Homo sapiens: one gene and its partners. The protein of the gene in region 3 interacts with the protein of the main gene of each other region in a pairwise test. Each region holds a gene or a part of one and is shown on either strand. Other genes may lie near its edges. The genes, in order: S100A9, SDHAF1, SDHB and ABCA1.

Region 1 (7,612 bases), about 140 Mb from region 3:
AGGAAGAGACTTTATTTGGCCCCAGCCCCTAGCCCCACAGCCAAGACAGTTTGACATAACAGGCCCCGGGGCCCTGGTTGGGTAGAGGCAGGGTGGCCTGGCCTCCTGATTAGTGGCTGTGGCCGTGGCCACCATGACTGTGGCCGTGGCCGTGGCCACTGTGATCTTGGCCACTGTGGTCTTAGGGGGTGCCCTCCCCGAGGCCTGGCTTATGGTGGTGGCCAGGGCCCTCGTCACCCTCGTGCATCTTCTCGTGGGAGGCCCAGGTTAGCCTCGCCATCAGCATGATGAACTCCTCGAAGCTCAGCTGCTTGTCTGCATTTGTGTCCAGGTCCTCCATGATGTGTTCTATGACCTTTTCATTCTTATTCTCCTTCTGCGGGTGGGGAGAGAAGGCTGTGAGAGCTGGGTGTGGCCAGAGGTGGGGACTGGGAGCACAGTAAATGACCAGCTGGCAAATGTACAAGGGAAGCCTCACCCTGGGGCTGGATTTAAAAATTAAAAATGACCATAGGCTGAGTGCGCACAATGGAGCAGACACTGAGCACATACCAAACGCTCTCCAGTTTATTCCCTCCATGACCCTGTGACTTGGGTGCTGATTCTCTATTTATAGAAGAGGAAGCTGAGTTCCAGGGTCTTGCCCTGGTCATGGCATGAGTAAGCCTGGAAATGTCACCTCATTTGGTCCTTATAACAACTTTAACAGCTAGGAATGGTATCTTCCTGGAGGAAGACTTGAAACCAGTCCTAGAGAGGGTCATTAGTTTTCACAGCTTGACTATTGAGGGCATGCAAATTCAGATCTGACTTAGAGGCCAGTTCCACTCTGCTACCCCTCTGCACTTCACTCCTTCCCCTGCCCTCCCTTCCCTTCCCTCTGGAGGTTACCAATTAGTGAAACTTATTTCAACCAATACAACGGGGAAACACCTAGAAAAACTAGGTGTGGGCAGGGGAGATGGAGGGTCAGAGAGCAGAGTATGTGCTCCGCTGACCTCAAGGGTGTGATAAAGTATAAAAGGGGAGATGGTCGGACAGGGTGGCTCATGCTTGTAATCCCAGCACTTTGGGAGGCCGAGGCAGGCAGATCACCTAAGGTCAAGAGTTCGAGACCAGCCTGACCAACATGGAGAAACCTTGTCTCTACAAAAAATAACAAAATTAGCCAGGCATGGTGGTGCATGCCTGTAATCCCAGCTATTCTGGAGGCTGAAGCAGGAGAATCGCTTGAACCCAGGAGGTGGAGGTTGTGGTGAGCCGAGATTGTGCCGTTGCACTCCAGCCTGGGCAATAAGAGCGAAACTCTGTCTCAAAAAAAAAAAAAAAAAAAAAAAAAGGAGAGACATCAGGGGAGGTGGAAGACCCAGACCCAGGCGGGGTCCAAGAGAGCACTGGTTGGTTCCAGCTCTGCCACCCTCTGGCTGAGTCACCTCGCTAAGTCCCCTCCCAGAACCTGTGGGGTACCCAGCCAATGCGAGCACTCTCCTGTGCAGCCCATCCATGAGGCTCTGCTTCCTTTCCCACAGCATCGCTTTGCTTCTGGTGGGGGATGTCAGGTGGGGGGTGAAGCGGGCATAGGGGGTCACATGGAGGATAGTTTTGCCATGCGGCCTCTCTGCTGGGCCCTTTCTTGCCTACCCCACCCAGCATCCTGCCTGCCTGAGGCCTCCACCTATGGAGAGCTGTCAGGGCCCCTAACTCTGAAGGCTGCAATTCTCCACCTTACCAAGGCGGAGGGAGGGGCACTGGGAGGGCTGGGGACCTACCCCAGGATGTCTGGCTCCGGGACTGGAACTGAGACTGAGACCCATGTGTTCCACCCTTCTTAATGCAGGCCTCTGTTTCCCGACTTTCCCCAAATTTGAAAAGAAAACAAAAAGGCTGTTGGAAGTGCTCAGCCTTTTTCTTAGAACTGCCTAATCATTTTTGGAGCGGGGGAAAAACCTCCCAGTTCCCTGAGTGCTGTGCAGGTGCTCTCCATGTGCTCTTTATGCATTCATTTTCCACCGCAGACCCTTAGGATTAGAAAAGCCCCCAAGTCTTCCACCCCAAGTTCCCGCCTGAGGCTTAGGGTCTCCTCAGCTTTGTGCCAAGTGTCATCCTCAGGGGCTTCCCTCCCCAACATTCGGGGCTCAGCTCAAATGTTACCTCCTCAAAGAGGCCCTTCTCATGTACCCTAACTGGTCACCTCCACCCCACCCAGCCCCATTGCCCACAGCGCACTCTATCTCATTTTCTTCCAGGCACTTATTGGCATTTGGCTTTATCTGTGCTCTTTATTGGCCAACAACTTTACTGTGTGTCTCCCTCCACTGGAATAGTGGGCTCCCCATTTACCACTACATCCCTCTGCCCAGAACAGGGCCCGACAAATAGCAGGTGTTCAATTGAGCAATTTCTTGACCCTGTCGTCCTGTGTAACTGTGAGCACCTGCCCTGTATAACAGGACACTCGCTGCGTCTTGGGGCTGGGCTCCAGGAGCTCAAATCTTCCCCTTGATTGCTGTAGCCCATACTCCCATCCTCCCTTGTCAACCCAAACTGCGGTGAGGCTGGGTCAGACCTGCCAGAGTCCAGCCCTACCTTGAGAAAATTTTGCAGATCTTTTCGCACCAGCTCTTTGAATTCCCCCTGGTTCAGGGTGTCTGGGTGCCCCAGCTTCACAGAGTATTGGTGGAAGGTGTTGATGATGGTCTCTATGTTGCGTTCCAGCTGCGACATTTTGCAAGTCATCGTCTTGCACTCTGTCTGTGTAATGGAAAACCAAGAGTTGGGACACTTAGAAGAAAATGCTGTCAAGCTTCTTTGACACTTCCTACTAAGCACTCACAGAAATAGTGGGGGAAGTGCAAAATAAAAAGAAAGCACAGGCTGCAACTTAACTGGGAGATGGCCTGTCACACACATGTACAAAATGATTTTTTAGAATATCTACAGAGTGCCAAAAAGCAAAGCATTTGAGGGCAGGAGGCCCCAGGGGAACATGACCTAAGAAAATGTGAAAGAAGCTTTAAAGTAGGCAGGGCCAACCAAGGAGGGCTTCTAGGAGGAGGATTTGGAAGGAAGTTGGGTCAGGGAAGGAAAGAAGGAATCGGCAGGCAGGCTTCTGCCTGGGGAAGCTGGCAGCTCACTTACCAAAGCCGAGGAGCCACACAGAGTGTTTGCCAGAGCTGTGCAGGCTCGGCATTTATAGGCAGCTCCTGACTGGGGCACTTGGCCCTTTGGCCCTGTCTCCGGAAGATTGCTTCACAGGTGAGCAGTGTGGTAATGCTGCCAGGAAGGGGGCTGGGGCGGGGCAGGAAATGTTCACAGAGCGCCTTCTGCTTTTTTGTGAAATTCCCAGCCCTGGCCTGAAACTGGTTTGGGAGGAAGCTGGTTGTTTAGTTCATTTCCCTTCTATCCTAAGGCCCTACTCTCCCCGAGCGAGCCTGCTGCTCCTCTGGCACCACTCAGCCCCCCATCCCCTTTGAGGTTGAAGCAGGCTGAGGACCTATGGGGGCCTGACCCTCTCGGCTGCCCCCCATGGGCAGTCTGCCCCTTCCTTTTAGTCCAACAAGGATGGTCTGAGCTCTCACCCATGCTTGCCTGGCTCTGTGATACTTAGGATGGCGAGGGGTTGGTGTTCTTAGATTCATAGGGTGAGATTTGGGGTTAGAAGGGTTCTCAGAGGTGGGCAACCCTCTTGCATTGTAGATGAAGAAACTGACACCCGGAGATGGACCTGAGCAAGGTCACATAGCTGGTTGCTGACTTGGCAGGAAGGGGACCCAGCTATTCTGGTTCCTGGTTAAGGGCAATTCTGATGATACCTTCCTCTTGCAGTCTGAGTGAGAGAGCCTCAGGGCGAATATGTTTCTAGCATCTCTCAGCATCATTTTTCTAAATCCTGCTCCCAGCAAGGGTTCCAGGAACTTATAACTTGGGAGACAACTGTTTTTACTTAGCCTCCTGGTGGGCAAGATGTGTCCTTCTCCTGCTACGAACCTCCAGTTGCTCCCCATTGCCTATGGAGAAAGCTTGGCTTAGCCCTGCGCACAAAGCCCTCTTGGAATGGCCCTGCCTGTCCGGCCAGCTTCCCTTTCACTACCTCCCTGCCCACTGTGGGAACACAGGGCCCACCTCCCACCTTGCCACCCCAGGAGTGCCCTTCCCCTACTCCACAGTGATATCCTGCCCGCCCCCACGGCTCAGTTCTAATGCACTCTCTTCCAAGGAGACTGCTCTGTGCTTCCCATTTGGAAACAGTTTCTGTCTTCCTGACTATGATTCTCATACCACTTCTGGCTCTCAACACTTGCTTTCCTGGAGTAAAATTATATACATATTTTGCCTCTGTCCAACAATTGGCTGTAGATCCTCAAAGGTAGGTTCTCATTCATGTTCTCCTTCTCCTATGCACACAGCCCGGGGCTTGGCAAGAGAGACACCCTCGGATTTGCTGATTGATCCTTGCTGAAGTCCTTGCTGGCATCCTTTCCCGTCACCCCTGGAAGCCAGTATGGATGATCCACCCTGGGACTCCCTCTTGCTTGCTGCCCCCTCTCTCTATCAGGAAAGATGGTTCTCTTCTTCTACCTGCACTGGTTATTTTGTTCTGTCTCCATGAAGCCTTCCTTTATTGCCCCAGCCCCTCCTGACTGCTTTGTCCTCTGAAAGCCTGAGGCAATCTCTGTGTGTGCTAAGCATTGGCCCTAAGCATGGCCTGCCTCACACTGCTGAGATGCACCTGGAGTAGTGGTTAAGACTTCAGACTGTCTGTGTGACCTTAGGCAGTTTACTTAACTTCTCTGTGCCTTACTTTTCTTATCAATAAAATAGGATAATATCAGGACTTACCTTGAGGATTGCGACAATACATGGAAAGTTGGGAAGAGCTCAGTAAATAAAAGGTATTATTACTAATAATCTTTTCATTCATTTATGCAACAAATATTTGTTGAGCACCTACTGAGTGCCAGATATGAATGCTAGATGCTGGGAGAACTTGATGAGTGAGTCGCAATACAAAGGGGAGACATAATCTTATATCCTGTCTTCCAAATTACGTTTTAAACTCTTGGTAGCTAAGGACAGGGCTTGGCACAGTGCTAAGCACACAGCAAGCATCTAATAAATAAATGAGTGCTTGAATACATGAGTCGCCTACGAATGAATGAACGGTGCAGACACAGCTCAGGAATACATGAGGTAGATTTCCTATCCAAGTCCACCTTCCATTGTTTAAGCTAATAGAGGAAACCCAGCCAGCAGCCAGCAGCCAGCAGCCAGCAGCCAACCCTGTGTGCCAGTGCAGCCTGTTCTGCAGTCCCTGCACAGCCCCAGGCGCCCTTCCTGTGTGCTCCCATGGCGCCCTCTGCTGCCTCTGACAAAGCACTTCTCACTCAGGACCAAGGATCTCCAACTCACCCTTGCGGGAACCAGACCCAAGGTGAAGCTGGTGGGGCATGAGAACATCAACGGCAGCAGTAGGGCAACTTGTGGCCACTGATATGGGGCCTCAGGGTTGGGGACACTGGACAGTGGTGGCAACTGTGGGGAATGAGAACGTTCCTACCTTGAAGGGACAGCCAGTGTCAGGCCAGGGCTGCCACGTGGGAAAGTAGACCAGATGTTCTTGGACCTCCTGAGGGCCCAGGACATCTGAAGCTTTATATGAAAATTCCTGTTTAATACAATTTGTCCATTAATTTAAAATAAAAACAAAAAAAGCATGACAATGAAGCAGGGTGTGTGTGACTCAAACCCTGAGTGATGGTGTGCGGCAGGCATCTCTGCTTTGTCATGGAGCTCTCAACTTTCAGGTGGACTTTCTGATTCCTCCACACCACTGTGGCTCCTCTAGGCAGGGATGCTGCCTGCTACCCTCCAAAGTCTTAGCACCAGGCAAGGGCTGGCTCAGAGGCACTGGATGAACGCTTGTTGATTGAATAAATTCAGGAGTGCATGAATCAATGATGAAATGAGTGAATGTGACATAAACACTGGCCTGTCACCCTCTGTTCTGTGACTTTCTGCAGAGCCACTGACTGTGGTCATTTAGTGCTGATTCAGAATGAAAGTAAAATAGGGAGTTGGGGGAGAGAAGGCTCAGCAGTGGGTGGGAATGAGCAGCTGGTCAGGGTTTCAAAACAGACGGGAATCTGCACTTGGGGGATCTGATGCTGACAGTGGGCCCCCATCTTAGAAGGCCACTGCAGGCCCCCAGGTTCCAGGCTAGCCCAGGCGCAGGTGAGGCCAGGGCTGAGCCATTCTGGTTCTGACCGGAGCAGACAATTCCTGGCATGATCAGTAGGTGGCCGACACCCACCTGCCTCCTCACTGCCAGCCGAGGCCAGAGGTTGGACTGAGGGATGGTGGGATGGGGGTCTTCCCCTCTGGGTACTGATTTTCCAGGGAAAGTCGGAGCCTTCTGCTAGGGCATGAAGTGGGTGGGCCAATTTTCCTGGCTCTGTACAATGACTCGAGGTTTTCACTGGGAGAAAAGGGTGTGGCTTTTTGGGTTAAAAAACAAATAAGTGGCCGGGCACGGTGGCTCACGCCTGTAATCCCAGCACTTTGGGAGCACGAGGCGGGTGGATCACAAGGTCAGGAGTTCGAGACTAGCATGGCCAACATGGTGAAACCTCCATCTTTACTAAAGATACAAAAAATTAGCCGGGTGTGGTGGTGCGCACCTGTAATCCCAGCTACTCAGGAGGCTGAGGTAGGAGAACCGCTTGAACCTGGGAGGCAGAGGTTGCAGTGAGCCAAGATCGCGCCATTGCACTCTGGCCTGGGTGGCAGGGTGAGACTCCATTTCAAACAAACAAACAACCAAGCAAGTAAACAAACAAGCAGGCAGAGGTTCCTGCAGCTACCATCAAATCACTGTGCTCTTTCCCAGATGCCTGGGACCCACTGCGGGTCTGTCTTTCCCTTCTCTGCAGCTCCCACTGTGGTCTTTCAGGGAGCTTTACCCCTCCTGTGTTGTAATGGGGGTGTTACAGCAGGCACACAGTGGGACCCGGACTGAGGGACTGAGCTGGTTTTAGTCCTTAGCTTTCTCAGACTTGCTGGTGGTCTTTAGAAGTGATTTCCATGTTCGGGCCTCCATTTTCTTATCCATTACATGAGGAGATTGGGACAGCTGACCCTTAGGTCATTTCTAGCACAGATTCCAAGTTTTGATGGACTCTTGGTGGGCTTCATGACTACTACTAGCCTCATGGCCCCTGGACACTGTCTCCTGGCTTACTTGCTCCACCTGCAGGTGAAGTCAGGTCCCTCTCCTCACAGGGACTCTGATGCCTGAGGCCCAGCCCCACTCAGGCTGCGCACAGCCTGCTGCCTATTCCTCCACTCCCTGTCTTCCTCCTTGCTGGGAGTCCCAAGTGCTCTTCCTTGGAGATCTCTGGGTACGGGTCTCCTAACCACAAGCGCCCTAACATCCCCCATTTCCCCAGTGCTCATTCTAGACTCTAGTGCATTAGGATGACTTACAGAAGCTATCCACGGGTAGCTTCAGACCATTGTTCTACCACGTTTGGGCTCAGTCCACATCAAGCTTTGACCACCCCTGGCATCCTTGTGGCCTCCCTTGACTGGCCATCCTGAGGTCTCTGAGGCCCTC
Region 2 (7,214 bases), on a different chromosome or scaffold from region 3:
GGGTTTCACCATATTGGCCAGGCTGGTCTGGAACTCCTGACCTCGTGATCCGCCCATCTTGGCCTCCAAAAGTGCTGGGATTACAGGAGTGAGCCACTGCGCCCAGCCTTGGTCTTCTTGCCTAGAAGCCTATCCCGGCAATTAATTCTTCAAACTGCAATTCCACTTTATAACCATTTGGGAATGTGGCTCCCCCACCGGGATTAGGGCAGTGACTGTTTCTCTTCCGTCCATCCTCCCTTTGGTCTGAGGTCTATGCTCCTTACCTGTGGTCCTCCTACCCACAGCTACATCCACAAGAACTCATTTCCACTTATTTAACTGATATGGGTGCAAATATAGCTCAGCGATGCAAAATGCATCCCTCCACAGAATGTCTAGGGCAGGCCCATATGGGGACACCGGAGGGAGTATATCTGTGATCTATGGGGTTCATCTCCCCTCTCCTGCCCCAGGGCCTTGTCGTTCACTGTAGCTGAGGCTGGACCCTTCAGCCAGGTTTGAGAAATTTCCAGGTCTGAGACCCTCACTACTGCCTCAGGGGCTCCGAGCCAGTTCTCAGCTCCACCATTTCCTCTTCCACACAAAGATGTTAAATCACTTGCCCTCCATTAGGGAGCCAACTGGGGTATCTTTGGGGGTTAAGCCAGGATGAGCCCCCTCCACAGATCTGCCCAGGGGAGAAAACTATGCCGCTTCAATCAATGTGCCAGTCTACAGGGCTCCGGAAGGAGTCAGATCCCCACACCTATCACCTCCCAGATGGTCCCTTCCAGGTGTCTGTGTGCGTGTGTGTGTGGTGGCAGGGGGGCTGGGGGTGTTTCAAAAATCCTGAAATATATAAAAGCTTTAAGACCACCAACAGGGAAGTAGACATATCCCCAATTTTATTCCCTTTGTCCAACATTCCGAGAGGGAAGGGGCAAATGAGTCAATGTTGCCCCTCAAAACCATCAAGTAGGGGCCTTTGGGGGTCTTCAGTTGATCAACCAGGGTGATAGACCCCTACCCCTTCCTCATGGTCCTGGCTTGTCACAATTAATGGGGGAAAGTTTTCCAGAAGGGGATTCCGGGCTTCTCACCGCTCATCAGGGCACCTTCCCAAAACGTTCTCAGCAAAAAGTCTGCACTTCTCAGAGTTAAATACAGGAGAGGGGAGACTCCTTGAGGAGCCAGAAGTGGGTATGTTCTCAGGGGTCAAGAGAAGGGCGTCTCAGGCTCTCCCTGTCCACCGGGGGTCGTCCTGGCTCCCCGTACCTTCGGGCAAGTAGCTCTTGGCTTGACACTGTCCAGCCCGCCAGCGTCCCAGGCCGCCCCAAGCCCTCATGGGGGAGGAGCACCGACCTGTCTCCAAGCATCGGAAAAGGCGGGCCTCCCTTGCCGTCCATCACGGGGCTCTCTAGGCCCCCTGCGTCGCCAAGGAGGAGTCTCTGACATCCCCAATTCGTCAAGCTAGTCTCTTAAGACCTCTCACCTTAGGCGGGTTCCCCAGTCCCCCCATGCAGTCAGGCGAGCCTCCTGGCTCCACCACGCCATCGAGCGAGTTCGGCTCTTCGCCTGTCACCGTCCGTCGGGGCGGGTCTCCGGTGCCCCCGTGCTGTCGTGGGGGTTCCTTGGACTGTCGCCGTCGTCAGGCTGGCAACCCACGCCGCCAGGCTCCCCGGTCGGGGCCCGCGGGCGTACGAAGGCGCCCATGGCGGTGGCGTGGCCCGAGCGTAGCAGCTGCAGCTGGCGCCGCCCGCGGCGGTACAGGTACTCGATGCGCAGCACGTCGGACCGCGGCAGGCCCGCATGCTGCCGGAACTCTGCCCGCACTCGCGCCTCGGCGCCCGGCTTCCCACGCCCGGCGCGCAGCAGATCGCGGTACAGGCTCAGAACCTGCCTCTGCAGCCGGCTGTGCCGGCTCATGACCGCGGCTAAGCAGAGACGCTCAGCGAACGACCTGCGAACCGCGGAGCCGCCACACAGCCAGCAAAGGCCAAAGGGCAAAGCCACAGCCACTTCCGCCCAGCGCTTCCCTTGGCCTCCAACTCCCGCCTCCCGCCATCCGGCGCTGCCGCGTCTGACTGGCTGTCGTTGCAGTTACGTAACAGCCGGCTGGGAGAAGTGGGCGGAGTCGCTGGTCGCGGCCTCCCACGTAGGGGACGTGTGTTCTTGAGGGGACAGCAGTTCTGGGGATCCTGGCACCGCCTGGAGGGCGTTATGTGTTCGGACTCCTAGGTCTTGGGTTGGAGGGAACAGAGGGTCCTCACCTAACTCCTGCATTCTGGGAGAAGAGGAAGCTAGGGGTTTTTTTGTGTGTGACGGGGTCTCGCTGTCGCCCAGGCTGGAGTGCAGTGGCGCGATCTTGGCTCACTGCAGCCTCGAACTCCTGGGCCCAAGCGATCCTCCCACCTCAACTCCCCTAGTAGCTGGAACCACAGACGCGCGCAACCGCGCCCGCTATTTATTTATTTATTTATTTATTTATTTATTTATTTATTATTATTATTATTTGCAGAGATGGGTCTCCCTATGTTGCCCAGAATGGCTCGAACTCCTGGGCTCAAACGATTCTCAGCCTCCCAAAGTGTTGGGATTCCAGGCGTGAGCCACCGCGCCCGGCTACCGGTTCGGACTTTGGGTCCCAAGGGCACGGGGCACTGGGAGAGACGCCGGGCACAAGCGTGCTTTTGCCGTCAGTTACTGATTCAAACCATCTTGGGAAGCTCCGTGCGTTCCCTCGTCCGGGGCAGGTCTGTGTCTGGGGTCCCAGCCCTGGGCACGTGCAGAGGGACGAGACCCCGTAGGGAAATGGCTCTCGGCCGGTTGGACAGGCTTCTCGGGCCAGGGGAAGACAAGCAGAGAGAGTGTGGGCGCCAAGCCCCCAGAGGCAGCGTGTGGCTCTAGGAGCTGGGTTGGTCGCGCCCTCTGCGGGTGGGAGTCGGGGCAGTGGACAGCGGTGTTTGGGTCCTTACCGACTGTTAAAGCCCGGAGTCCGGGACACCCTGAACAGTCGACTAGACTGCAACCCCGTTGTCCTCCCAGGAGCTTTAGGTGGTAGGCCGCAATGCCGTTGTTGTCCCCGCGGGCCGCCTGGAGGTGTCCTCGTAGCGCTAGGGAGGCCCGCAAGGACACAGCATCCTCGGGCCCCACCAGCACCGGAGCTTGGGGGACCCCTCCACCCAGCGCGCAACCGCGGCTCTGCACACTTGGGCCGGCAACCAGCTGGGGGGTCCATTCCCCTTCAGAGAGGAGAAGCTGGTCAGGGGCGGGGATTAGGCTTGGAGTCTTGGAGTCAGGGGAGAATCACAAACCACTGTGAATCCTGCCTGGCAGGTGTATGTATCTATCAAAAATACATGTCCTAGAACGGTGGCTCACACCTGTAATTCCAGCACTTTTGGAGGCCGAGGCGGGCGGACCACCTGAGGTCGGGAGATCGACACCAGCCTGATCCACATGGTGAAACTTCTGCCTCTAGGTTCAAGTGATTCTCCCTACCTCAGCCTCCCCAGTAGCTGGAATTACAGGTATGTGCCAGCACACTGGGCTAATTTTTGTATTTTTAGTAGAGGCGGGGTTTCACCATATTGGTGAAACTACAGCCTTGATCTCCTGGGATCAAGCAATCCTCTCGCCTCAACATGTCCAGTGGTTAGGATTACGTGAACATCCCACCACACCCGGCTAATTCTTCTTTTATTGTTTTTTGTAGAGACAGAGTCTCGCTGTGTTGCCCAGGCTTCACTCTGGAATTTTAAATATTTATTTTTTGTTTTGTTTTTAGAGACAGGGTCTTGCTATGTGGCCCAGATTGGTCTTGAACTCCGGCCTCATCCTCCCAAGTAGCTGGGATAATAGGGATGAGCCACCATGCTGGCTTGTACTCTGGAATTTAAACATCTATCTTTTTCCTGTCAAATGACCCTTAATCTCCAAGACAACTATGTCAATCAGCCTAGGGGGACTTTCTTTACTTTCCAGTGGACTCAAGGAGCTGCAAAACCTCAAAGGGAATACTATTGCCTCCTGCCCAGGGCCTGTCAATGGTTTTCTGGTTACAGTCTCTCAGTTTGTCTTTGGGGAACTGGCCCACTCTTATTCTAGGGGATTTCCTGGGTAATATCCCTGCCCTCTGGCTCTGGCTACAGCTCTGTTACATGCCCAGGCCTGGCTACTTAGAGACAAATCAGAATATCCCATCCCCTGACCCCTGTAATTGTTTAGGGATGGGCAAATGACCTCCACTGGGACAATGAGAATCAGACCCGGGACTTCTGTTGAAACTGTGAAGAAAGAAGTGCTGTCTCCCCACTGGGACTGCTAGACTGTACATCATCAACCTGGAGCAGTGGGAGATCACTTCCCGCAGGCAGAGGGGTAGTTTGAAAATGAGGCTGTGGCAGTCTCAGATACCCATTCTCCATTTCTTTCCTAGAATTAGCATTTTTTTTTTTGATATGGAATCTCGCTCTGTCACCCAGGCTGGAGTGCAGTGGCGTGATCTCCATTCACTGCAACCTCTGCCTCCCGGGTTCAAGCGATTCTCCTGCCTCGGCCTTCTGAGTAGCTGGGACTACAGGGATGCGCCACCACATCCGGCTAATTTTTGTATTTTTAGTAGAGACGAGTTTTCGCCATATTGGCCAGGCTAGTCTAGAACTCCTGACCTCAAGTGATCCGCCTGCTTCGGCCTCCCAAAGTACTGGGATTACAGGTGTGAGCCACCATGCCTGGCCTTTTTTCTTTGTCTTTTCCTTTTTTTTTTTTTTTTTTGAGATAGGGTCTTGCTCTGTTGCCCAGGCTGGAGTGCAGGGGCATGCTTGTGACTCACTGAAGCCTCAAATTCCCAGGATCAAGTGATCTTCCCACCTCAGTGGCCTAGAACTATAGGCGCTCACCACCATGCCTGGCTAATTTTTGTATTTCTTATAAAAACAAGGTTTCACCATGTTGCCCAGGTTGTTCTCAAATTCCTAGGCTCAAGTGATCCTCCCACCTCGGCTTCCCAGAGTGCTGGAATTACAGGCATGAGCCACCGCACTTGGCCAAATTAGAATCTTTAGCTGCACACATGGCCACTTAGCTAAAGATACATCTTCCAGCCCCCTTTGCAGCCAGATGGGGCCCTTCCATAAAGTTTGGCCACTGGGAAGTGAATGGATGTGATGTGTGCAATTTCTGGGTTTTGTCCTTAAAGGGAGGAGGCCTGGCCTCTTTGTGCCCTCTTTTCTCCTTCCAACTTGCAGGAATGTAGCTGCGGTGAGGAAGAGATGAGGGCAATACCACAGGGGAGGCAGAGCCACGTGACAGATGGAGCCTGTGTTGGAGGAAGCAAACTGGTTATACTTGGACTGCCTGTGAGAGATAATTAAGCTTCTATCAAGTTTAAGCCACTGTAGGCTGAGCGTATTGCTCACGCCTGTAATCCTAGCACATTGGGAGGCTGAGGTTGGGAGGATTGCTTGCACCCAGGAGTTCAGGACCAGCCGGGACAACACAACAAGACCTTGTCTCTACAAAAAAAAAAAAAAAAAAAAAAAAAAAAAAAATTGGCCAGGCATGGTGGCACATAACTGTAGTCCTAGCTACTTGGGAGGCTGAGGTGTCGGGATTGCTTGAGTCCAGGAGGTCAAGGCTGTAGTGAGCTATGATCACGCCACTGCATTCCAGCCTGGGTGACAGAGTGAGACCCTCTCTCTAAAAACAAACAAAAAGCTTAAGCCACTGTAATTTTGAGCTTTTGTTCTACCATATGGACCTGGAGCCTAATTACTATAGAAGCTAACGCAGAAAAAGGAAAAGGCGAGGATGAAAGATGGAAAGAAACTAAGTTCTTAGCAACATCATTTGAGTCCTTGAACCAGCCAGACCTGAAGGCCTCATCTTTACAGATAAGTAAAAGCAGACAAATTCTCGTCTGTATTTAAGACAGCTGGCATCATTTTCTGTCATTTACAACTGAAAATGCTGACTGATATACTGGTGATTCAGGGAACATCTTATGATGAGGTTTGGGAGACTTGTCCTCACCTTCCAGGCCTGGAGATCCCTCTCACCAGAAGGTAGCATTCATTGTGGAAGCAGCCACAGTGGTCCTGGGACACACAGTCTGTGCCATCAATGGTGAGGCCACGTTCATAGCTCTCATAGCATCGGGAGGAACAGTGAGCGGGGTTGGCAGGCAGGACACACCCCAAATCATAGGTCTGTGCACAGATGCTGTAATGGCCTTGGGGTGGGCAGGTCTGTGCTGCAGGCAGTTGGCAAAGATAAATGCCTAGGGCTCAAATTTCTTTTCTTCTTCTTCCTTCTTCTTCCTCCTTCTTCCTCCTTCTTCCTCCTTCTTCCTCCTTCTTCCTCCTTCTTCCTCCTTCCTCCTTCCTCCTCCTTCTCCTAGTCCTTCTCCTCCTCCGTCTTCTTCTTCTTCCTTCTTTTTCCTTCTTCCTTCTTCTTCCTTCTTTTCCCTTCTTCCTTCTTCTTCCTTCTTCCTTTCTTCTTCTTCTTTTTTTTTTTGAGATGGAGTCTCCCTCTGTCTCCCAGGCTCGAGTGCAGTGGTGTGATCTCCATTCACTGCAACCTCCACCTCCAGGTTCAAGCAATTCTCCACCCTCAGCCTCTCAAGTAGCTGGGACTACAGGTGTGTGCCACCACACCCGGCTAATTTTTGTATTTTTAGTAGAGACACTGTTTTACTATGTTGGCCAGGCTGGTTTTGAACTCCTGACCTCAGGTGATCCACCCACCTCAGCCTCCCAAAGTGCTGGGATTACAGGCAGGAACCATCGCGCCCAGCCTCAAATTCCTCTTTCCAATCTCATCGCCTCTGCCCCTAGTCAGCCTGGCTTCCCATTGGTATTTCCCCACCTCCACACCTTTGTAGCTGCAGTTCCCTTTCCCTTGGATCCTCTTCCCACACATTCTCCTCCACCAATTCCACCTATGCTAGGAATTCTTCCTGGACTCCCACCAGGGGAAGGGGCTCTTCCAGCCAACCCATAGTCTGCCCTGCCTGCACCCCAGACCAAGCCAGAGCACTTATGGCAATGCTTGGGGCCCCTCCAGGGCATCACAGGGTTCCCAGGCTCCTGGCTGCTGCAGTATGGCCTGTGAGAGTGTCACAGAGACCACGGTGCTGGCCACTGGGATGACACGCATCCTGCAGGCATATACTAAGGAAGGGCTTGTTGATGTGGGCCACACAGTGGTTAAAGGGGCCATCCGGCACATGC
Region 3 (7,761 bases):
TTTTGAGAGATGTGATGTGAAGAAGAACTCAACCTGCTGCTGCTGCTTTTGACGATGGAAGAAGAGGCCAAGAGCCAAGGAGTGCGGCAGCCTCTGGAAGCTTGGAACAGCCCTCAGCTTACAGTCAGCAGAATGACAGAGACCTCGGGCTCACAACCACAAGGAACTGCATTCCACCAATAGCGCAAATGAGCAAAAAATATTTTCCTCTAGGCTCCAGAAAGGAATGCAGCCTGCTGACACCTTGATTTTAGTCTGATGAGACTATACCAGTCTTTTGACCTACAGAACTATAAGATAATACATTTAGGTTGTTTTAAGTCACTAAGTTTGTGGTAATTTGCTCTGACAGAAATAGAAAACTAACACGCCAGTCCAATTTTTAACATTTTAACCACATCCCTACCTTGTCCATTCAAGGCAAGTTTCTGGCGGTTCTGTTATTATTATAGAAAACACAGGTCCAGATGTATAAGATATAATCAATACATTCAGCATTAAAAAAATGGTAATATATTAAATGACTTTAAATACTGTGCATAAAGTTAATTATACCAGTATTTCTAGAAATTTGTCATACTTTCATTTGGGAATTATTTTGGTATTATTCTTCTGAATCAGGTAACAACCTCATTTTTTTTTTTTTTTTGGAGACAGAGTCTCACTCTGTTGCCCAGGCTGGAGTGCAATGGCATGATCTCAGCTCACTGCAACCTCTGCCTCCTGGGTTCAAGCAATTTTTGTGCCCCAGCCTCCTGAGTGGCTGGGATTACAGGCATGAGCCACTATACCCAGCTAATTTCTGTATTTTTAGTAGAGAGGGGAGTTTCACCATGTTGGCCACATTGGTCTTGAACTCCCAACCTCAGATGATCTGCCCGCCTGAGCCTCCCAAAGTGCTGGGATTATAGGCGTGAGCCACCGTGCCCGGCCCAAGCTCATTCTTGTTTTAAAAACAGAGCCATCGGATGATCTCAGATTTTTAAGCCTTCCAAGGATGTGAAAAGCATGTCCCTAAATCAAATCAAGAACTCTCCTTCAATAGCTGGCTTTCACAGAGATACTCACTTATTAAGGTCAACTTCATAAGTCTGCATATGAGGTTTGTCTCCAGCCTTGTCTGGGTCCCATCGATAGATGGCAAATTTCTTGATACGGGGAGCTGTGGCTGCAGCTGTCTGGGCTCCTCGGGAGGCCTGAAATTTTTTAAAGTTCACAAAAAGGAAAAAAAAATTAGAAATACAAGATAATTCCATTTTGCTGGCACAACAGATGTAACGCTGGATATAAACTCACACATTACTGACACATAATCTTCTTAGAAAAGGCAGGCATTCAATATCCAACAAGTATTAAGCACCTATCATATGCTAATATATCAGACATGGTATTAGGGGCTAGTGACACAGCACTTAATACACAAAAACCTTCATCTTCACAGAACTTACTTTGTAGTGAACAAGAGTTAAATTAAACATTCACGATGAATATAAAGAGCGATACTGTTGGGAAAGTACAGGGAGCTCTGGATGAATACAGCAGAGACTTCAATGAGTGAAGAGTCAGAGAAGGCTTCCTCACATGTCATCTAAGTGGAGGCTTGACAAACCAGAATTAAGGGGAAGGAGTGTGGGGTGTGGTCTGAGGGTGGTGGCTCATGCCTGCAGTCTCAGCACTTTGGGAGGCAGAAGTGAGAGAATTGCTTGAGCCCATGAGTTTGAGAGCAGTCTGGGAAACATGGCAAAACCCCATCTCTACAAAAAATAAAAAAATTAGCTGGGTGTCGTAGTGTGCGTCTCAGGAGGCAGAAGTGGGAGGACTGCTTGGGCCCGAGAGGTTGAGGCTGCAGTGAGCCAAGATCATGCCACTGCACTCTAGCCTGGGCAACAGAGTGAGACTCTTTTTCAAAAATACAAAATAAAAAAGAAAAAAAGAAAGAAAAGACTATACTCCAGGACTGCTAATTTTTAAAATAAACTGATATAGAAAAGTAAAAACTCGGAAGGTTAATTGACTAATTACAAAAAGATGCAGTGGTGTTTATTACTGAGGCAGGAGAACAGGGTTTAGAGACAGGGAGTCTTCACTACAGCCTCTGATTCGTCTCGGGCCAAGTCTTCATTTGCATAGGGTGTAACTAATAGGAAACCCGTACAGGGTACTTTAATCCCAGAAGACTGTGCAGCTGGGGCTCTTGAACCACTTGCTCAATCCCACTCCTACTCTATGGAGTGTACTTTCATTTCAATAAATCTATGCTTTCGTCTTCTGTTGCTTTGCTTGTGTGTTTTGTCCAATTTTTTGTTCAACATGCTAAAAACCTTGACGACTTGTGGTCAAGACCGTCTACCAGTAACATTATTTCTTGGTAAAGTGTCCCGTATTAACTGAAGCTGAAAATACAAACATCAGCTAACAGTAGAAAAGAAGAAAATATATGAAGAAAATGAAAGTTAAGATGAAAGCTATGTTTTACCTTATCACCAAGCTGGCTAAAATCATCAACAAAAGGAAAGCCATTTCTACAAATGTTTTTCACCGGGAACCCCATTTTGTAAACTGACATGAACATCTAATGCCACCTTGTGGTATTTGGGAGGAAGTGAGAGGAAAGATTCCTGAAGGTATCAACTCCAGTGGACTTTGCTTGCTTAATGTCCCATTTTTTTTTTGGTCTTTTTTCTGTGAGATTTAATAAGGTATAATTCATTATAATAAAATTCACTAATTTTAAGGGTATAATGAGTTTTGACAAAGCAATGTAATCCTACCACAATTACAACAGAGTATTTCCATCCAAAAAGGTCTTTTGTGCCCTTGATGGCAAACATAAGTCCCCTTTTCCTACCCTTAGCAACTGATCAGCTATCATCACGAGTCTGCCTTTTACAGAATTCATATAAATGGCATCATACGGTACGTAGTCTCATGTCTAGCTTCTTTCACTCAACATAATGCTTCTGAGATTCATATGTTACTGCATATAACCATAGTTAAATGCTTTTTTAAAAAATTAAACTATTTATTTATTTATTTATCTTTGAGACTGAGTTTTGCTCTTGTTGCCCAGGCTGGAGTGCAATGGTGCAATCTTGGCTCACCACAACCTCCGCCTCCCCGGTTCAAGCAATTCTCCTGCCTCAGTCTCCCGAGTAGCTGGGATTACAGGCATGTGCTACCAGGCCCGGCTAATTTTGTATTTTTAGTAGAGATGTGGTTTGTCTATGTTGGTCAGGGTAGTCTCAAACTCCCAACCTCAGGTGATCTGCCTGCCTTGGCCTCCCAAACTGCTAGGATTACAGGCGTGAGCCACCGTGCCTGGCCAACCTTTTTATTTTTTAATAATTATAGATTCATATGCATTTATAGAAAATAATACTGAGGCCAGGTGCAGTGGCTCACACCTGTATCCCAGTACTTTGGGAGGCCAAGACAGACGAATCACTTGAGGTCAGGAGTTCAAGACCAGCCTGGCCAACATGGTGAAACTCCGTCTCTACTAAAGATACAAAAATTAGCCCGGTGTGGTGGCACATGTCTGTAATCCCAGCTACTCGGGAGGCAGAGGCAGGAGAATCGCTTGACCCTGGGAGACGGAGATTGCAGTGAGCCAAGATTGCGCCACTGCACTCCAGCCTGGGTGACAGAGTGAGACGCTGTTTCAAAGAAACAAAACAAAACAAAAAGAAGAAAATAATACTGAGACTCCACATACTCTTCTCACCTGTAATCCCAGCACTTTGGGAGGCTGAGGTTGGGAAATCACCTGAGATCAGGGATTCAAGACCAGCCCAGCCAACATGGTGAAACCCCGTCCCTACTAAAAATACAAAAAAACGAATTAGCAGGGTGTGGTGGCGTGTGCCTGTAATCCCAGCTACTAGGGAGGCTGAGGCAGGAGAATGGCTTGAACTTGGGAGGTAAAGGTTGCAGTGAGCTAAGACTGTGCCACTGTATACCACCCTGGGTGACAAAGTGAAACTCAAGCTAAAAAAAAAAAAAAAAGAGAGAGAGTTTTGCTCTGTCACTGATTGTGCAGTGGCATGATCACAGCTCACTGCAGCCTCAACCTTCTGGACTCAAGCGATCCTCCCATCTCAGCTTCCCCAGTAGCTAGGACTACAGGCATGCGCCACCATGCCCAGTTAGTTTTTTTACATTTATTTTTGTAGAGATAGGGGTCTCACTGTGTTGCCTAGGCTGGTCTTGAACTCCTGGCCCCAAGTGATCCTCTGCCTGGCCCTCCCGAAGAGTTGGGATATAGGCATGAGCCACCATGCCAGGGCCCACATACTCTTTACCCAGTCTCCCCAACAGGAACATCTTGCAAACTGTAGCACACCAGCACAACCAGAATACTGACAGTGCTAGTCAAGATAGGGGACATTCCCATAAGCACAGGATCACTAACATTGCCCTTTTATAGCCCTGTCCACTTCCTCCCACCCTACCTCCCCTGTACTCCGTAAGCCCTAGCAATCACTAATCTGTTCTCTACTTCTCAAATTCGGTCATTTCAAGAATGTTATATCAATATAATCATCTGGTATGTAGCCTTTTGGAATTGGCTTTTTTTATTCAGCCGAATTCTCCGGAGATTCATCCAAGTTGCTGTGTACAGCAATAGCTTTTTTCTTGTTATAGCTGAGTAGCACTCCAAGGTATCATGTACCACAATTTGCTTAACCATGTAACTACTGAGGGACATTGGGGGTGTTCTAATTTTTGGTGACATGAATAAAGCTGAGATGAACATTTGTGGACAAATTTCTGTGTGAACGTTACATCTTCATTTCTCAGGATAAACACCCAGGTGTGTAATTGTTGGGCTGTATGGTAGCTACAAGTTTAGTTTTTTTTAAGCAACTGACAAAACTATTTTCCAGAGTGGGTGGCTGCTGTGCCTGAGGCAGATAGTAGGGTAAGTGGGACAATATGCCTTTTAAAAAATGGGGCTACTTCAAGTTTTTACTTCTAATTTGGACACTTTTATTTTTCATTTATTTTTTAAAATATTTATTTATTTATTTATTTTGAGATGGGGTCTCACTCTTGTCCCCCAGGCTGGAGTACAATGGCGCGATCTCGGCTCACTGCAACCTCCACCTCCCGACTTCAAGTGATTCTTCTGCCTCAGCCTCCTGAGTAGCTGGGACTACAGGTGCCTGCCACCACGCCGAGCTAATTTTTATATTTTTAGTAGAGACGGGGTTTCACCATGTTGGCCAGGCTGGTCTTGAACTCCTGACCTCAGGTGATCCGCCTGCCTTGGCCTCCCAAAGTGCTGGGATTATAGGTACAGGCCACCTTGCCCGGCCTTTATTTTTTATTTTTATAGACACATGGTCTAGCTTTATTGCCCAGGCTGGAGATCATGGCTCACTGCAGCCTTTAACTCCTGGGCTCAGGCGATCATCCTGACTCAGCCTCCCAAGTAGCTGGGACTATAGGTGCACACCATCATGTCCAGCTAATTTTTGTAGAGACAGGGTCTTGCCATGTTGGCTAAGCTGGTATGGAATTTCTGGGCTTAAGCAATCCTCCCATCTCAGCCTCCCAAAGTGTTGGGATTACAGGTGTGAGCCATTGTGTCTGGCCCTAACTTGGACTTTTTTTTTTCTTTTTTGGAGAGTCTCATTCTGTTGCTCAGGCTGGAGTGCAGTGGCGCGATCTTGGATCGCTGCAACCTCCACCCCTCAGGCTCATGCAATTCTCCTGTCTCAGCCACCCGGGTAGCTGGGATTACAGGCATGTGCCATAAAGTCCAGCTAATTTTTGTATTTTTAGTACAGACAAGGTTTTGCCATTTGGCCAGGCTGGGCTCAAACTCCTGGCCTCAAGTGATCCACCTGCCTCAGCGTTCCAAAGTGTTGGGATTACAGGTGTGAGCAACCGCGCCTGGCCCCTAACCGGGCTTTAAACAGAATCTGGGACTGGAGCATAATCCCCTAGTTCTTTTTTTTTTTTTTTTTTTTTTTTTTTTTTGTGAGACAGTCTCACTCTGTCACCCAGGCTGGAGTGGAGTGGCGAGATCTCTCTGCCTCCTGGGTTCAAGCAATTCTCCTGCCTCAGCCTCCCAAGTAGCTGGGATTACAGGCGCGTGTCACACGCCCGGCTAACTTTTTTGTATTTTTAGTAGGGATGGGGTTTCACCGTTTTAGCCAGGATGGTCTTGAACTCCTGATGTCGTGATCCACCTGCCTCAGCCTCCCAAAGTGCTGGATTACATACAGGTGTGAGCCACTGTGCCAGGCATAACCCCCTAGTTCTAAAGCCTGATTTAGTATTGTCAGTGGGCAACAGGCATTAGGCTCTATCAAGCTGGGTATCAGAACCACAAGGCCTGTGGGATGACTGTGGTTACCTGCAATGAGGTTTTCCCTTCAACATTTCTTTATAACATTTAAATATCTGTTTCATATCCACTCTACACGGATAATTGATCACGTATTATCTTTCCAAAAGAGACTAAGTTTGTATTAGAGCTAATTTAAATTTTTAAAAAGTCTTATCATATGAATGATGTGAAATAAGAGCAATGCCAGGATGTACTACACTGAATATCTAAGTCGACATATCCCAACATCAGTTTTGGAGTGCCCCAAAATGTCATCATTTTTTTTTTTTCAGTACAACTAATTTAAATTTGTTTTGTGTCAAAAATGTATTTTATAGGCCAGGCGTGGTGGCTCATGCCTGTAATCCCAGTACTTTGGGAGGCCGAGGCAGGTGGATTACCTGAGGTCAGGAGTTCGAGATCAGCCTGGCCAACACGGTGAAACCCCGTCTCTACTAAAAATACAAAAAAATTAGACAGGCACGATGGCGGGCACCTGTAATCTCAGCTACTTGGGAGGCCGAGGCAGGAGAATTGCTTGAAATCCGGGAGGCGGAGGGTACGGTGAGCCAAGATTCCGCCACTGCACTCCATCCTGGGCAACAACGTGAGCGTGACTCTGTCTCAAAAAAAAAAAAAAATGTATTTCATACAATATTTGGTGGGGCAAAGGGGGTTTACCAGAATGAAAGAAGATTCTGAAATCAAAATCACCAGAGTGGTCATGGTTCTGAAAGTGATAGAGCTTTGCTCATCTTGAGGTCTGTACAAAGAGTTAATTCTCAGGATTATGTTATCTGTGTTCCACCAAAAAATTCGTTGAATACATATATCTAAAAATTTGCCAGATTTCATTCATCGAACCTTTATAATCTGTCACACACGGTGCCAAATAATCTCTAATCTTTATAACATCTCTATGAAAAATGTTTTGTTGTTCCCAGTTAAAAGACGAGGATAGGATCATATAGCAACACAGGTCACTTGATTCAAAAATCCAACCTTTTAGCCATTATAACCAGTGGTGAAAACGCAAACATAAAACGCAACAGTGCAAAAAGATAATTCCATTTCACAATGAGATCCAAGGAACAAAAGAAGTTGTTGCTCTAATCATACAATGAGACTATATGATTTTTTTCCCCTTGTTACCTGCCCAGCAATTTATACTACAAATCCAAAAGGAAAGAGGGCCCCTTGAAAGCATTTTTACGTTAATCTAAAGACTAATGAGTATTCAAGGCAGAAAGTACATTCCTAGGAAATCTTGGATAGTATGAATTTCATAGTTTATAATTTAAGCAAGGTAAGCAACAACTGAACTGAGAAGGGTGAATTCTGAATGGTGCTGAAGGCTGGTTGTTGTTCCTCCAGTAAAGTGTCCTTAGGGTGCAGGCTTGGAGTTGGATGGAGTGGATAAAGAT
Region 4 (7,761 bases), on a different chromosome or scaffold from region 3:
TAATTATTTTTAAAATTACCTTTCATTTATGATAACTCATATTGGTTTTCCAATTACAGGTCAAATATAAAGTTATTTTAAAATATATTGATGATTACAAAAATTTGAGTCAACTTGAGTGGGCTGAAATGCTACCTATCTCAGAGTTCCAGTGAAAATTAAATGAGATCATATATAAGAAGAACTAGCCCATGCTGTGTTCCATCACCCACGGTCTGGTTGATGGGTAAAATTTCAGTAGGTGAGGAATATGAGCAGAAGATCAAGTGTGAACCAAGGCAAATACATGAGATGGACATGAGATTCCAGAACAATGAGGAGCCAAACAATGCCAGGAAGGGGTTCTTAAAGTAGAAGATGAAAACCTGTAGAGAGAGACTCATTTAACAGGTACCAAACCATACTATATGTTAATCAGTCTGGTGAGAAAACCAGCTATAGTTCCTTCGAGCATGTGTCTTATAATCCAGGACAAAACTATCAAAGTGGGTCACAGTCTTATTTCAAAGAGCCTTGAATGCCAAGCAGAAAGAGATCATTAATGGTGGCAGATTCTTAAAAGTCTTTTGACCTCTGTCCAGCACCTAGTACTTTCCACAGTACATGGTGTTTAACAAACATTTGCTGAACAAATAAATTTGTTTAATAGCACTATAGGTGTATTAGTGCATTTAATTTTCAAATATAAATATGTATTGTTGTTGTTAATATCATATCTTCTTCTTCCTTCTCTCTCACAGTACCAGACAACAGCCTAACCCCAACTAAGGTAAACTCTGCCACCAAACATGCCTGGGAATGGAGAAGGGTCTGCAGGTCAGTGTAAGCTCATCAGTCTGGGCCTTCACTTTCTCCCTGCCTTTCCAAGGAAAGCTGCTGCTTGCATCAGTGTTGCCTTTATGTCAAAGTGTATCACCTAAATACCAGATCCAACAGATTTCAAGCCACCACCCTCCAAAGACTTGCTTCTTCAAGAAAACAAGCGTGGTTTGACTCTTGTGAAAAACAATTACTCCCAACCTGGCATCCTACAAGAATTTTGCAAAGCAAGGGTGAACAGGGATATGACAACCAAACATCTTCCTAGCAGCTCCTTCCCCCTCCCTGCTCCTGGCCAGAAACCTCTTCTTCCTTTTACTCCTTCTTCTTTCCACTTCTAATTTGTTATGATCTCTCAAACAACAAATTTGGTACAGTGCTTTAGAAAGCTTTGTGTCTTACCGACCTACCCCCAGTGAGGGTCTTCTGAGATACTTCAAACTATCCTCATGAGGTATAGTCCAATTCTCCTCCTAGGATGGGTACTAGCATGCTATTCTTGAAGGATGAATGAGCCTGAAGAGTTGGTTATGGTTTCCTTTCATCACCTATTGGCTTAACAGGAGTCCATTATAAGAAGTAAAACTTAGGCCGGGCACTGTGGCTCACATCTGTAATCCCAGCACTCTGGGAAGCCAAGGTGGGCAGATCACAAGGTCAGGAGTTAAAGACCAGCCTAGCCACCATAGTAAAACCCCGTCTCTATTAAAAAAATACAAAAATTAGCCGGACATGGTGGCATACGCCTGTAGTCCCAGCTACTCAGGAGGTTGAGGCAGGAGAACTGCTTGAATCTGGGAGGCGGAAGTTGCAGTGAGCCGAGATTGCGCCACTGCACTCCAGCCTGGGCAACATAACGAGACTCCATCTCAAAAAAAAAAGCAAAACCTACACCCAAAATGATGTCCGAGATGGAGAGTCCAATTTTATTTTAGAGAGATTTTCCAAATGGTGAGTCAGAAGCAAGAACAGTATCTCACTAAATCATGTTTACTCAACTGAAACTTATTGAATTAAACCAACTCCTCCTTCCTTTGCATTTCAGATGAGAACCCCTTCTGGTTCTATGATTCAAATCTTCATTCACTCAAAGCAGGTAAATAGGAAATTTCAACAGCTTCCTCTCCTCCCTCTCATTCCTTTCTTCTGTCATCGATCTGATCAGGAATGCTCTGAGGCATTCCCTGGTTATTTTTTCTTTACCTCTCAAAATCCACATGGTATGTTACACTAATGCCCAGCATGTTCCTCAGATCTCTAGATGGCTCTAATTAAAGGACCACCCCTTCTTCTGAATACAGACCTGGGGTTAGAGGACATAAGAGCTTGAAGGGCTCTTTAAAAGTCAAGTAGTATCATTTTACAGACCAACAACCTAAAAAACAGAAAAGTAAAATGACTTGTCCAAGGTCACATGGCTTAATGGATTTGTGGGCATTCATGAACACCCTGTAATTACACATAAAATTTGGATTATATGAGCCCATGTGTATTTTTTCTGAAGAGAAAATCCGTATCTTTCTTCAAAGAAGTCAACAATCTCTTCCCCAAAATATAGTAACCACTGACAATTATATGCATATTTGAAAAAAAGTTTAACTAAAATTTAATGTTCCAAGTCTGAATAGTAATATGAATTGGTGATCTAGAATAAGAGTGGAACCTAATTTAATAACTGTCATTGTTATCATCTTTTTTTCTTTTCATGTCTGGGATATCAATGCAAGTAACATGGGATAAAGACAATTTGATGTGGAAGTAAACTATAAAGCAAGATTTTTGTTTTGTTTTGTTTTGTTTTTTTGAGATGGAGTCTCGCTCTGTGCAGTGGCACCATCTCGGCTCACTGCAATCTCTGCCTCCTGGGTTCAAGCGATTCTTCTGCCTAAGCCTCCTGAGTAGCTGGGATTACAGGCTTGCACCACCACGCCCAGCTAATTTTTGTATTTTTAGTAGAGACGGGGTTTCACCATGCTGGTCAGGCTGGTCTCGAACTCCTGACCTCATGATCCGCCCACCTTGGCCTCCCAAAGTGCTGGAATTATAGGCAGAAGCCATCGCGCCCGGCCTAAAGCAAGCTTTTAAAATCACTGAAAACACTCGTATGAATAAATTTCACTATAGGCCAAGCATTATATTATACGGTTCACATTATACACAAACACAAATACCTATTTTACAGATGATGAAACTGAGGCAAAGAGTGATCAGCAACTTGCCTAATGTCAGATATCCATTAGTAATAACCAGAATTCCAATCTACATTAATTTGACTCTGATATCCATGTTCTTTTTCACCAATATTTGCATCTATACTCCAAGATGTCCTAATACTAATATTCTATTTACTTATTTAGAAGAACTAAATCAACTCTCTAAGGTAGCTTCAAGGAAGTCTTTCATAAATGGTTCAACTACTAAAAAGTTCTTCCTGGGAAATATCATAAACTAAATACCAGCTATCACAAAATATCTGGACTTTAAGACTAACCAGATAAAATGTTTTGACTTCCAAATGCTTCTTGGAAGTTGGATTTGGCAGAGAAAACACCGGGGAATTTTAAACAAACACCCCCCAAGAAAAGACTTTATAGAAGAATAGATCCAATGCATATGAAGTTACTGTTTTTTAAAAAAGTGTTTAAATCTCTAAATTACTTAGTGAGTCATGTCACTCTTATTAACAAAAATAAATTAATATACAACTCAAAGTACTTGAATATGGAATGCCACAGACTAGAGCATTTTCTTAAATCACAGCTGCCTCAGAAACGGAAATGAAACTGAGCGAAACTGAAATGTTTGTTCTACAAAAAGTAACCTGGCCTAAATAACTTAAGTATGCACTAAAATTTCTCAGTCTAACATAAACCTAGCCTTAACTACAGTTGTTTCTCATATAACTCTATTTCTAATGCTTTTCTGTGATTACCCTGTTATCTTAAGTAGTCTTTTAGAAGACAGGAAGCAAACATGAGCTTCCCATTCTCCTTGTTGGACTTATTCAAGTCAGCATTTATTAAATTTTTTCCATATTAAGTGGGATGAATTAAGGCCAGGGGAGAATGAATCAAAGACCTTCCTCTAGAGAAGCATACACTCAAGAGGAAGACAAATAAATGTTAACTGTAATTAAAAAACAGAATTAAATACATGATACAAAGAGTGCTGTAATCCAAGTCTAATGGAAGTAAAGAGAAGGGGATCTTACTTTCAACTTAGTGATGGGAAGGAGTGGATCCAGAAGAGCTTCATGAGGAGGGAAGCATTTAAATCGGGTCTTAAAGGAGGTTTGCAAAAGCTAAAGGGTTTTGTACCAACTTTGTTTTCAACATGGGAAAGACAGGATTTCAAACTTTATTTTGTTTTAGGAACCAAATCCAGTGCTCCTCCATTGTTGGAATAAATGCTCTTTGCCTGAATGCTATTTGTGGTCTTCGTAGAATGGAGAGTAACTGAAGGCCCCACCGGAAATCAATTTTATGTAAGCTTTTCATTCTCTGGCCTCAAGTATTTCTAAAATGTACCTTTCTATGCAGGCTACTTATTCAGGCAACTATTTTCAGGTGAAGATACTCAAATGAAAATAGAGAATCCCTTTTGGCCTTTTGCTAATATTTCATTTGTCAAAACTTTGATAGTCTGACAAAGTCTTTACCATGAGATTGGTAAACTCACGGAAGCCAAACTGTCTGGGATGCGACTTCAGCTCCACTACTTACGAACTCCATAATAATGTACCTAGCCTGCCTATACCTCAGTTTCCCATCTATAAAGACAATAAAAGCACCTATTTCACTCATGAGAATGAACTGAGTTATTACACGGAAAACTTAAAAACATATCCAACATACCATAAATCAACAGTAAATGTAACTATTTTTACCAAGAGGTGTCTTCAAAGAGTTTATTTCTAATTCATTACACCAATTAATAAGAAAGGCACTTTCTCATCCTATTTCACTTTTACAAGGCAGACATTTTTTTTCAAGACGGAGTCTCACTCTGTCGCCCAGGTTGGAGTAAAGTGGCACGATCTCGACTCAGTGCAACCTCCGCCTCCCAGGTTCAAGCAATTCTTCTACTTCAGCCTCCCAATCCCAGTAGCTGGGATTACAAGCACCCACCACCACGCCCAGCTAATTTTTGTATTGTTAGTAGAGACGGGGTTTCACCATATTTGCCAGGCTGGTCTTGAACTCCTGACCTCAAGTGATCCTCCTGCTTTGGCCTCCCAAAGTGCTGGGAATACAACAATGAGCCAGTGCACCCAGCCAACAAGGCAGACTTTGAAACTGTGTTTATCTTCCAAAAATACGTATATCTTAAGAAAAAACTAAATTTGATTTCTAAACAGTAACAGCAGTAACAGAGAAATAGCTTATTTCAAAAGGTCCACAACTTCATCAAGGACAGGACAAGCAAGAATCATATTGTATTATAACAAATTTTTACAATTCACCAAAGTTAGGTTTTACAACTAAACTAACAGTTCACTTCTCTTTTTCCTTTGTTTCTTAGGCCCTTACAGCCTAATACTCTATCATTCCATTTTCTATAGATCACATAGGAAAACATTTTGAGATCACACAGCTATTCGCAAACATCTGACTGAAGCAATAGTATAGTTTTCATTATGAACCAAGTAAAAAATTGAGTTGAGTAAATTTTATTCTATTCTTTCCAGGATGTTGCAATCCCTACGCAACCAAGGTTTCAAGTTAAAGAGAATTTGGCTGACCCACTCACAGCAACAAGGAAAATATGATACAGGCTGTAGATTCTGATAAGGATTATAGCAGATGAATGTAGAGAATGTGGTGATCATCCTTGAAAAGCTCCCTGGTTGCAGCAGCTGAAATGTTAGTGCTGGAGTTAAAGAACTCTGGCTGGGTTCAAGTCTTAGCTCTGCCTCTTGCAAGGTATATAGCCAGAGAAAAATTAGCTTCTCATTTACTTAATCTTGTAAACTAGGGACAATAAATGGTTTTGTTGTGAAAATTCAATTAGCATTTGATGACCTGCACAGTGGCTTATGCCTGTAATCCCAGCACTTTGGGAGGCTGATGTGGGAGGATCACTTGAGCCCAGGAGTTCAAGACCAGTCTGAGCAAGATAGTGAGACCTTGTCTTTACAAAAAATTGTAAAAATTTAGCCAGGAGCAGTGGTGCGTGCCTGTGGCCCCAGCTCCTTAAGAGGCTGATGTATGAGGATCACGTGAGCGCAGGAGGCTGAGGTTGCAGTGAGCCTTGTCTGTGCAGCTGCACTCCACCCTGTGCAACAGAGCAAGACCCTATCTCAAAATAAATACAATGAATAAACACGTGAAAAACATTTCAAACAGTACTTGCCACACAGTGCTATATAAGTGTCTATTCAACACTGCAATAACTTTGGCCATTCATGGTTGTATCCACATGCAGATACGAAGATGGTTGCATTTTTTGGAGTAGGCCTTCTCTCAGCATAAACAAAACAAGTGTTCAGAATGATCTTTTAACATTTGATGCTAGAGTAAATGACCATAACAACTACTATAATGGTATTATTTATTTAATATCTGGATACTTAAAAAAATGTATTTGAGGCCAGGTGTGGTGGCTCATGCCTGTAATCCCAGCACTTTGGGAGGCTGAGGCTGGCAGATCACTTGAGGTCAGGAGCTTGAGACCAGCCTGGCCAACATGGTGAAACCCTGTCCCTACTAAAAACACAAAAACTAGCCGGGTGTGGTGGCACGCACCTGTAATCCCAGCTACTCAGGAGGTTGAGGCAGGAGAATCACCTGAACCTGAGAGGCGGAAGTTGCAGTGAGCCAAGATCATTCTACTGCGCTCCAGCCTAGGCAAAAGAGCAAGACTCCATCTCAGAAAAAAAAAAAAAAGAAAAAGTATTTGGTTTTAAAAGTATTTTAGAAATGCAAAAACCACATGCATTTTGATATTTTCTAGACATCTAGATATCTTCATAATTAGAAGAGTCTATCTAAGGTAATGTTCACTTATTCTAGCAGCTAAAAATGAAAACAGTGAAGACCTTAATTTGTAGCCACTACATATATAGCTTAAGTATCCCGGCTTACGGGAGAGAAGATCCCTTTAAAAAAAAAATTTAAATGGAAAAATATCCCAACCAACTCCTCTCCAAAAAGGTAAGTACTACAGAAGATAATAAAAAGCTAAGTCACTGAACTTCTTCAGTTTCATTCATTTTTTTATGTTTACAATGGGACTTCCTTGAGCAGAAGGAACCAATCCTTGAAAACAATCAATTCCTGATCACTCTTTTCCAATCCTGCACTAATGCACTGTCTCACACAAACCGAAAATATGTTCTAAGTCAAAATGTGTCCAGGGGTCGGGCGCGGTGCCTCACGCCTGTAATCCCAGCACTTTGGGAGGCCGAGGCGGGTGGATCAAGAGGTCAGGAAATCGAGACCATCCTGGCCAACATGGTGAAACTCTGTCTCTACTGAAAATGCAAAAACTAGCCAGGCATGGTGGCGTGCGCCTATAGTCCCAGCTACTCAGGAGGCTGAGGCAGGAGAATCTCTTGAACCCAGGAGGTGGAGGTTGCAGTGAGCCATATCGTGCCACTGCACTCCAGCCTGGGAAACAGAGCGAGACTGCATCTCAAAAAAAAAAAAAATGTGCCCAGGGTCCATTATAGGCCTGCACTCGTAGAAATACGAGGGTTGAGATTTCAAATGCTCATCTGCAGGGGAGACAACATATCACACGTGTCCAGGTTACAGTCAGATATGTCATTCTGGAACACTATGCGGGTGCTCAAATACAGACTCCTAAATTGCTCTGACAACAGTAGCAATTCTAGTCCCTTAAATGGCTTGTAGTCATCGTGAAGGCTGAAGACCCACTTCCCCGGTCCTTCTGATTGTAAACCAATGTTTTCCTAAAATTCCCTAGCATTAATTATTTTAA

What was found.
Region 1: the proteins of SDHB (region 3) and S100A9 interact in a two-hybrid assay, tested with the Homo sapiens proteins (one study listed by IntAct).
Region 2: the proteins of SDHB (region 3) and SDHAF1 interact in binary tests that used the Homo sapiens proteins (3 or more experiments, as listed by UniProt).
Region 4: the proteins of SDHB (region 3) and ABCA1 interact in a two-hybrid assay, tested with the Homo sapiens proteins (one study listed by BioGRID).

What each region holds. Positions count from the first base shown.
Region 1 is NC_000001.11:153,353,408-153,361,019, reverse strand, and holds the start of S100A9 (protein S100-A9), read right to left. Parts: upstream 3,167-7,612; 5' UTR 3,139-3,166; intron 2,752-3,138; 5' UTR 2,737-2,751; coding exon 2,587-2,736; intron 377-2,586; coding exon 182-376; 3' UTR 1-181. UniProt on the Homo sapiens protein: S100A9 is a calcium- and zinc-binding protein which plays a prominent role in the regulation of inflammatory processes and immune response.
Region 2 is NC_000019.10:35,989,969-35,997,182, reverse strand, and holds SDHAF1 (succinate dehydrogenase assembly factor 1, mitochondrial), read right to left. Parts: upstream 1,996-7,214; 5' UTR 1,909-1,995; coding exon 1,561-1,908; 3' UTR 871-1,560; downstream 1-870.
Region 3 is NC_000001.11:17,043,693-17,051,453, forward strand, and holds part of SDHB (succinate dehydrogenase [ubiquinone] iron-sulfur subunit, mitochondrial isoform 1 precursor), read right to left. Parts: intron 1,197-7,761; coding exon 1,069-1,196; intron 1-1,068. UniProt on the Homo sapiens protein: Iron-sulfur protein (IP) subunit of the succinate dehydrogenase complex (mitochondrial respiratory chain complex II), responsible for transferring electrons from succinate to ubiquinone (coenzyme Q).
Region 4 is NC_000009.12:104,917,922-104,925,682, forward strand, and holds part of ABCA1 (phospholipid-transporting ATPase ABCA1), read right to left. Parts: intron 4,622-7,761; exon of another isoform or gene 4,191-4,621; intron 1,916-4,190; exon of another isoform or gene 1,865-1,915; intron 817-1,864; exon of another isoform or gene 1-816. UniProt on the Homo sapiens protein: Catalyzes the translocation of specific phospholipids from the cytoplasmic to the extracellular/lumenal leaflet of membrane coupled to the hydrolysis of ATP.